Regions from separate parts of the Homo sapiens genome. Here regions 2 and 3 are each linked to region 1. Evidence: fine-mapped expression QTL. A gene starts in region 1. Each other region holds a variant in brackets. All regions are shown on one strand. Distances are between the middles of the regions. Region 1 holds the start of SESTD1 (SEC14 and spectrin domain containing 1). Region 2 overlaps SESTD1 (SEC14 and spectrin domain containing 1). Region 3 has its middle 88 kb from the start of SESTD1.

Region 1 (2,768 bases):
CAAAACGTGAAGTAAGAGACGACCTGTCAAACAGCTGCTATCTAGTTACTCCCTCGGCAGCACTCCCAACTTCTCCCGCGATGTCTGTGTGTAAGAGAAAGATGTCAAAGCACCAAGAAAACCACGGGGGCTGTCAGAGCAACAGCCAAGTCCAAACCGTGCATCCCAGGGTGAAATCCCACCCGTACCCTCAAGAGCTGGTCAGACTGCGGCTCTTTTCTAATATGAGTCTACCTAAAATAGAAAAATAAACACAACCACAGACCCTGGCCAACCCTCTCTCTCCTCCCCTTTGTGACTCTCCCAAACGCTGGAGGGATGTTAACCTCTGGCAGGCCCGTGGAAGCCAAGCCCCGCGACCTGAGGAGGCGTCCAGGAGCCTCGGCGCAGCCCTGGGGCCTCGAGCCCGTGTCCTCCACCCACCCGACAGGGCCGGTCACCGGTCACACAAAGGAGCCAGTCGCGGGCGCTGGACGCGGGACTCGCCCGAGAGCAGGGAGCCACATCTGGTTCCTGCACGCTGGCAAAAGAGACCCGCTGGAAAATAAGGACTAACGCCCAAACCTGTTGCACAATTCGGGTCCCTTTCACCCAGAAATGAACAAGGGCGCTCAGGAACGGAAAAGCGCGCGGCCCGGTCTCTGCGGGCCGCGGCCGCACCCGGCAGACGGCGCGGAGGCAAAGGCGGCCCGCAGGGCTCCCACCTCCGGCGCTTTGTCTGTGGCGGCAAGGCGGTGGGGGCGGTCGGGGCGTTGGGAGCAGAGGCGGTGGCGGGGCGGGGGCGCCCCTCCTTCACTGCGTAGCCCCTCCGCCCCGCGGCCCGCGCAGGGGAAGAAAGCCGGGCCCGCTACCGCCGCCGCCGCCGACTGCACCGGCCCAAGCCGGCCACCCGGCCGCGGGGCCTGCGCGCTTCTCCCGCCCGGGCCGAGCGGCGGCCACACTCACCTGGCTGGCGCTGACGCTAGCGGCCGGCGGCTCCGGGGCGTTGGGGAAGACAGGGGAACGCTAGCGAGGTGCGGGCGGAGGCGGAGGGCGCGGCGGGAGGAAGGCGGGCTGGGGGCGGAGCGGGCCCGGGCGGCGGCGGCAGCAGCGGCGACGGCTGCGGCTCCAGTCACTCGCGGCAAATCGCGTCCCGGCCCCTCCGTGCGTCAGGCGGGGAGCGGGGGTGCGGGTGGCCCGGCGACCTCTCGGCACCCGCGGCCCGAGCCGCGTCCGCGCGACCCCGCGCGCGCCCGGGTGACGGCGGTACAGCAACCCGCCCGGCGCGGGAAGGAGGAAGGAGGCGGGGCGGGGCGGGGCGTCCAACCGGGCCTGGGGCTGAGGGCTGGGCGCGAGTGGGACTCTGGCGCTCCGGACGGACCCTGCCGTCCCCACCCCTAGCCGAGGCCCAGGCTCCCCAGGCGGGAGGCAGTCTTGGAGAGTGGAAGGGTACCTAGATCTGGAGTCAGAAGTCTGGGCTTAAGAGAGGGTCCGTTACTTGACACCCTGGCAGGTCATTTATTTCCTCTGGCCTCATGCTGGAGTTCGAAGGTTCGAGTACAAAGTCTCCAAGAGCTGCTCCCAAGTACTCACTGCCAAGCGGTGGTGTGGCTGAAGGATGAAGGCAGATGAAAGGGAAAGGGTTGCGGTGAGGAAGGGCTGGATTCAGGGCATTTGTTTTGCTTTGAGGATCTTTCCACTGGACAGTCCAAAATTAATCCACAATGGGGCTCCCTGATAATGGCTACTTCCCCATTTTTACCAACCTAGTTATTTTTCTCCAAGTATACTGACTTAAGAGTCCTTGTTTTCATTTTATTGCGCAAATCATTTGTATGTCATTTCCTGAATTCAGTTCAAAAGAGTCATCAGCAAATTCACACCAGATCAGAGCAGCTGTGTGGTCCCAATTTCAAGACTTCCATATTATTCACTCAGCCACTCACTTCAGTATCACCTAATTCCGTTGATAAAATCTTCCTATTCCAACAACTAAGCAACCAAATTTCTCTCCACTAAAGTTTTCTGACTTAAAATCCCGTGGATTAATTCTTCCTCTTAATTCTGTGAATATCAGTCTGTCTCCATGACTTCCACCTCTTTGCCACTCTAGGTCAAGCCTTTAACTTCACTGCTGCTTCAGTTCCATATAACTGCCAGAGAGAATGCTCCAAAAAGACAGAGCTAAGCATGAAACGTCCCTCTTTAAAATCATTCAAAGTCTCTCCACCTGGTTGAATCAGGTTCAAACTCATTACCATGGTTTACAAAGCCATTTAAAATCTGATCTATTGACCTCCTTGGCTCCAGCTTCAACTCCTAATATATCTACGTATCACACAAATTCAACAGACTTTGTCTTTGTGCCCTTGTAGTTTTCCCCCACCTGAAATCCATCCCTCATTTAACCAGTTGAACTCCTATTGTCCTTCAAGATAATGAAGATAATGCATCCCTTCCTCCTTGGAATCTTCCCTGACATCATCTCCTTTCACCACATCTGTATCCTTACCCCACACATTTACAATGAATTAAATACTCTTTTTCTCTCTGCTTTCATAAAATCGTCTATCTACAGTATTCCCTATGATAATCTTTAATACTTGCTTTTTTCCTGTTGCTTTGCTTGGTGGCCTTTTCTTCCTAGACTGTGTGTTCCTTAAAAGGACAGGGATTTTGTCTAGTTCATTTTTTTTGCTCCCCAGAACATAGCACAGTGCTCAGCACAAAAAAGGTTCTCTTTAACTGTTTGCTGAAGCGTTGAAATAATTTTCCATCCCAACAAATAG
Region 2 (2,768 bases), 140 kb before region 1:
TAAGTTTGCAGATATGAGGGAAGAAATTTCTGCCTCATGACTGTTTTCTCTGTGATGCAGAAGGAAGCTTTCTGTGAAGTTTTGTTGATGATCATAAAATTTTTAAGTGTGCAAAATTTCATATAACCATGCTAGATTGTGTATATTGCATAATTTTAATCCTTTACTTTGCAATACTTTGTAGTTGCTATTGCAAACTGAGTTTTCAAAGAATCTTTTGAATTCCTAGTTTTATAGAAAATGAAACTAAACATCACTAGTCCACTGTTTAATCCTCCTACAGCAAATATGAGAACAATGAATGTGTGACATTCTGTAAGTTTAGATGAAGAAACAGATCAATGTAGATGACAAGTTTAATGGCAACTCTAAACTAAATGAAATTTAAAAAGCAAAATTATTCTTCAGTAAGTTTTTTTTAAAGCAGAAGAGTCATAGACTACACTGGGGATATGGAATTTGAAATAGTTGAGTATAATTGAAATTTTTACAACCCAATAAAAAGGAAAATGGTACCTAATAATTGAATAAATTATTACTATGTTAGTAAAATTATATACAGTAATTATCACATTCACCAAAAACCTACTACATGTCTTCTATATAACAGTTAAGAACGTTTTGTCTGTATATAAAATGTTATATAACTTCATTTTAACTAATATTGTTATTATTTTAGTAAAAAGTAATTAACGGTCAAACTTTGCCTTTGTTTTCTAAGCTGCATATCTTCCATCACTCCTTGTATGTGGTCCACATTTTCTTTATTTTCAATGGTTACATCCTTTCCATAGGCCCAGGATGCCTGATTGGAGATCTGATCCAGGAGACCTTGACCTTTTTCACGCAAACCTTGCAATCCCACATCTAAAACAAAAGTTACTAGATTTAATCTCTTACACAACTAAGGCGCTTTCCCTCCCTCAAACAAATCGTCTCATCAGATATTGTACCTGGATCCCAAGTATAGGAGCTTTGTACAGTAAACCACCTTGGGATGGAATCCCAAGACTCCATCCTATGAACATTTCAAGCAATAAAACCCTTTAAATGTAACTCGAATTGGAGCTCTCTCTCATGCCAAATTCTCCCTAAAGGGAATTTTGAAAACATGGGTTTCCATAGACAATAATTACTTTTAAAAAATGAAAGCAGAAGAAAAATATGAAAATTCCTATTTCTAATAGAAAACAATTTTCT[G/GT]TTTTTTCTTCCTGCTTTTATGCTGTCCAACTTATAGGAGAACAAGGCAAACATGTTGTTTAAAAAAGCGCATAAGCCTTGCAAAATTTTAAGACACTCCAGCAATGTATCATCAATGTCAAAGGATGTTGAACATTGTGACTAAAGATACAGTCTAGCTTCTATACCATAGGAAGCAACAATTAGGGTATATTTACAATTCTCCAAATTACATGTGTAAAGGAACTTTTTTTTTTTAAACAAAGACTGTGGCTCAAGAAAACTAATATTTTAAAAGAAAATTCATTTGTCATATTAAACACTAAATATGTATTATGCATACCATCTGTTAAAATAACAGAGGCTGGCCAGGTGCGCTGGCTCATGCCTGTAATCCCAGCACTTTGGGAGGCTGAGGTGGGCAGATCACCAGAGGTCAGGAGCTCGAGACCAGCCTGGCCAACATGGCAAAACCCCATGTCTACTATAACTACCAATACAAAAATTAGCCGGGCGTGGTGGCAGGTGCCTGTAATCCCAGCTACTTAGGAAGCTGAGGCAGGAGAATCACTTGAATCGGGGAGGCAGAGGTTGCAGTGAGCCAAGATGGCACCACTGCACTCCAGCCTGGGCAACACAGCAAGACTCCATCTCAAAAAAATAAAATAACAAAGGCTGTAAGCAAGTAAAATGTCAGTACAAGTGTGATTTTTCAAACCAATTCCCTAAGGCAGTTTTCAATAATTTGGTTTAGTCATGTGCAACCACTTTTTACTAGTTCTCTGCCTTAAGTTCCTGTTTCCTCTCTTCCATTGCCATTTCCCCTTTTGTCCCCCCTTGATACGACTCCCCACCTTCCCATTGTCACATCCTGACCTTTTAGGAAAGTTCACTGTGCTTCCTGCTGTAGAAAAATTCTAAAGGCCTTGATGTCAAATGACATCAAGCCTACATCAGCTTAATGTAACTGGACCCCTTAATGTAAATGTACCCCACTCCTTGGAGAATGGGTAATCTGACAATATTCCCAGTTTGGTGAGACAAGAACCAAAAAACCAAACCAACTATTTTTTCACAAGGTTAGGATAAAGCAACAACAAAAATCATTGCATAAAACACAATTTTGGGCATACAGGATTTACCACAGAACATTTCACAGCTAATTACAGTTCATGCATGCACTACAAATAATTGTTCATAGTATATGCAAGACACAGCACCTGTAGATATAGCTGGGTAAACAGGCAAGGGTAAAGGCCCAGTGAAGGGAGGAGTGACTAACTAACGATGAAAAATAAAATTTTCAGCATAAATTATAACCCCTCAAGGGAATAAAATCTTTTTATACTATTTTTCTGTTTCCTGAAAATAATACTAATTAGTTCAGTGTAAGTTGACTTAATTGTCTAACCATGGTAATGATATTTAAAAAAAAAAAAACCTTATGTTTCAGCATTTTTAAAATCTGCTTACCAACACTTTTCAGCTTCTCTTCAAGCAGTTTTAAAGTTTGCTGAATCGATGCTCCATCAGCTGGTGCTACATCTACGCACAACATCCCTAATAAGCCATCCAACTGCTGAGACAAC
Region 3 (2,768 bases), 88 kb after region 1:
CTCACCATCTCTACTCTGGAGGACATGGCTGCTATCTGGCAGTGACCGCTGCCCACAAATATGGATGTGGGCTCTACCATAATTTCCCCTTACAGAAGAACAAAGACTAATGGAAGGAGAGTCCAACACGGAAGATACATTGCTTCTGCAGTTCAAGTCCATTTTGCTGTAGGTCACCTATGGGCCTAGCCACCTTCCTGACTTGTCATCAGCTTTTCTCTGTGTTGTCAGGCCCAGGTCAGGACACCTGGCTCCTCACAGTCACCGAGTCTCAAACCCAGAGAAAAAAGAAAAAATTTCTCCTCACCTCAGACTAATTCCTACTCACTAAGTCCTCATTTTTTGTCCCAGGATGAATATCTTCCTAGTATAATGGACAGTGGAGAACTTCTATCTGTTATAGGGAAACCCAACTACTATATAAAAGAGTGAGACTGGCTCTGTGATCCCAAGAAGAAAATAACAAAGATGATGCTTTTTCTATCATGTGGGTTAGACGGCCTTACCCTTGGGCAACTTGATGTAATATTGTTTTTACAAAAGAAATATGTAAAGTAGGTCGAATACAATTTTCCATTTCCTCTTTCACTTGACAATACATTTTGTATATCATTCCATATATGTCAACTTTATGCTTTTTAATAGCTGCATGCTGTTCCATAGTTGCATGGTTATACTATAGTTTGTTGATGAACATTTTGGTTGTTTAAACAAATACTGCCACAAGTATTTATTTCAAAATACTTTAATAGATGATGTAAATCTAGTAAGTATCCCAACATTTACCATACAACACTTTTTAAGTTGTGGTTAAATATATATATAACATAAAATTTATGATTTTAACAATTTTAAAGTATAGAGTTTTGAGGTATTACGTACATTCACATTGTGTGCAACAATCACTACCATTCATCTTCAGGACTTTTTCATCTTCCCCAGCTGAAACTTTGTACCCTTAAAGACTAACTCTGCATTCCCACTTCATTGCAGCCCCTTGCAACCACTCTTCTATTTTCTGTCTCAAAGAACTCTACTCCTCTAGGTACCTCATATAAGTGGAATAATACAGTGTTTTTCCTTTTGTGACTGCCTTATTTCACTTAGCATATGATTTCTTCAAGGTCCACTGATGTTGTAAGCATGTATCAT[C/A]ATTTCCTTCCTTTTTAAGGCTGATAATATTTCACTATATGTATATACCACATTTTGTTTATTTATTGGTTGATGGAACTTGGGTTGCTTTTGACTATTGTGAATGATGCTGCTATGAATGTAGGTATACAAATATCTGTTTCAATTCATGCTTTCAAGTTTTTGGGGTTTATATTCAGAAGTGAAATTATTGGATCATATGGTGATTCTGTTTAATTTTTTAAGGAACTGCTACATTGTTACCCATAGTAGCATTTGAGTCATTTTTAATAAAATAAAAGCCATATATATTTTTTTATTTATTTATATGTATCTGTATTATATATATTTATATATCTGTATTTTATATATATAAATAGCTTATATATATATAAATAGCCATATATAAATGGCCCTATCCTACAGAAATGCTTTACATAAAGGTACAGATATCTGTAGGATAGGGCTGGGAACAGTGGCTCACACTTGTAATCCCAGCACTTTGGGAAGTCGAGGGGGAAGGATAGTTTGAGGCCAGGTGTTCAAGACTAGCCTGGTCAACATAATGAGACCCGGTCTGTACAAAAAATAAAAAGTTAGCTAGGTATGATGGTGTGTGCCTATAGTTCTAGCTACTCAGGAGGCTGAAGCAGGAGGACTGCTTAAGCCCAGAAGTTCAAGGTTACAGTGAGCTATGATAGCACCACTGTACTCCAGCCTAGGCAACACAGTGAGACCCTTTCTCTAAAAATAAATAAAATGAAACAAGATACTATATATTACTGTTTGTTTTTTGCTGTTCCATTGGAATACATCTCTTTTACTGAGCTGAGAACATGCCATTTTATTTATTGTGGCTTGGTATCACCTTTAAACATATATTAAATCTAATCCTTCTCTCTATAACTCTTATTAAAATTGTTGTTGTTCTTGGCTATTCTCACTTGAATATTCTCTCAGATAAACTTCAGAAACATTTGTTCAAGTTTATTAAAATTCCATTAGGATGCCATTGAATTTACAGATTAATTTAGGAAAATTGACAACTGAAAATATGCAGTCTTCTTATTCAGGAACAAGACATTTTATGTCTTTATTAAAGTCATTTTAATTTATGGTTATCTCTTGATTATTCTCAGTAGAAGACAAATCTTAAAGTTTTTGTTGAGAACCACCTGTTCAGCTTGATTATCTCCTTTGTGTTTCTTAACTGCATTTATTCTCATCCTCTACATATGAACTATAACTCATTAGAGTTTGGAAGCAAGAACTTTAGAATAAAAATATCTAATTAAATTTCTACCTGAGAAAAAAGGACACAGAGCGATAGCTGTACTCTTGGCAGCAGCTCCTCCAAAGCACACGCTTCCTCTCATTTTAAAGACTCGCCTTGATCCACCTTGGGGTGGGGAGAAAATGGAGAGCAGGGAAGGCAGAGAAAGAGAAGAAAAAATGGCAGAATACCAGAGGAGGAATCATGTGGATAAATTCTTAGTTCTTGTAGAGTCAGAAATTCCATGTGTGGCCTCTTTGTTTTATTTCCAATGTTGTGAATTCTTAGAAAGTGAAATGTACTATGACTAAACATGAATGAAAAGGTCCTGTAAATTCAAATATAAATGATATTTTGGGAGATG

The links.
Region 2: its variant is fine-mapped to the expression of SESTD1 in whole blood (INTERVAL, PIP 0.95).
Region 3: its variant is fine-mapped to the expression of SESTD1 in whole blood (TOPMed, PIP above 0.99).

Annotation. Positions count from the first base shown.
Region 1 is chr2:179,263,554-179,266,321 of GRCh38, forward strand. SESTD1 (SEC14 and spectrin domain containing 1) reads right to left here and starts at 1,279. Exons shown (of 18, transcript NM_178123.5): 1 at 946-1,279. RefSeq lists an enhancer at 11-80 and silencers at 409-572, 681-750, 761-1,380.
Region 2 is chr2:179,121,063-179,123,830 of GRCh38, forward strand. It overlaps SESTD1 (SEC14 and spectrin domain containing 1), which reads right to left. Exons shown (of 18, transcript NM_178123.5): 12 at 2,653-2,767; 13 at 708-867. Among named protein-coding and RNA genes, the nearest start is that of CCDC141, 72 kb to the left of the region's middle. The variant G/GT (reference allele first, on the strand shown) is at 1,201.
Region 3 is chr2:179,351,856-179,354,623 of GRCh38, forward strand. No RefSeq gene overlaps it. Among named protein-coding and RNA genes, the nearest start is that of SESTD1, 88 kb to the left of the region's middle. The variant C/A (reference allele first, on the strand shown) is at 1,153.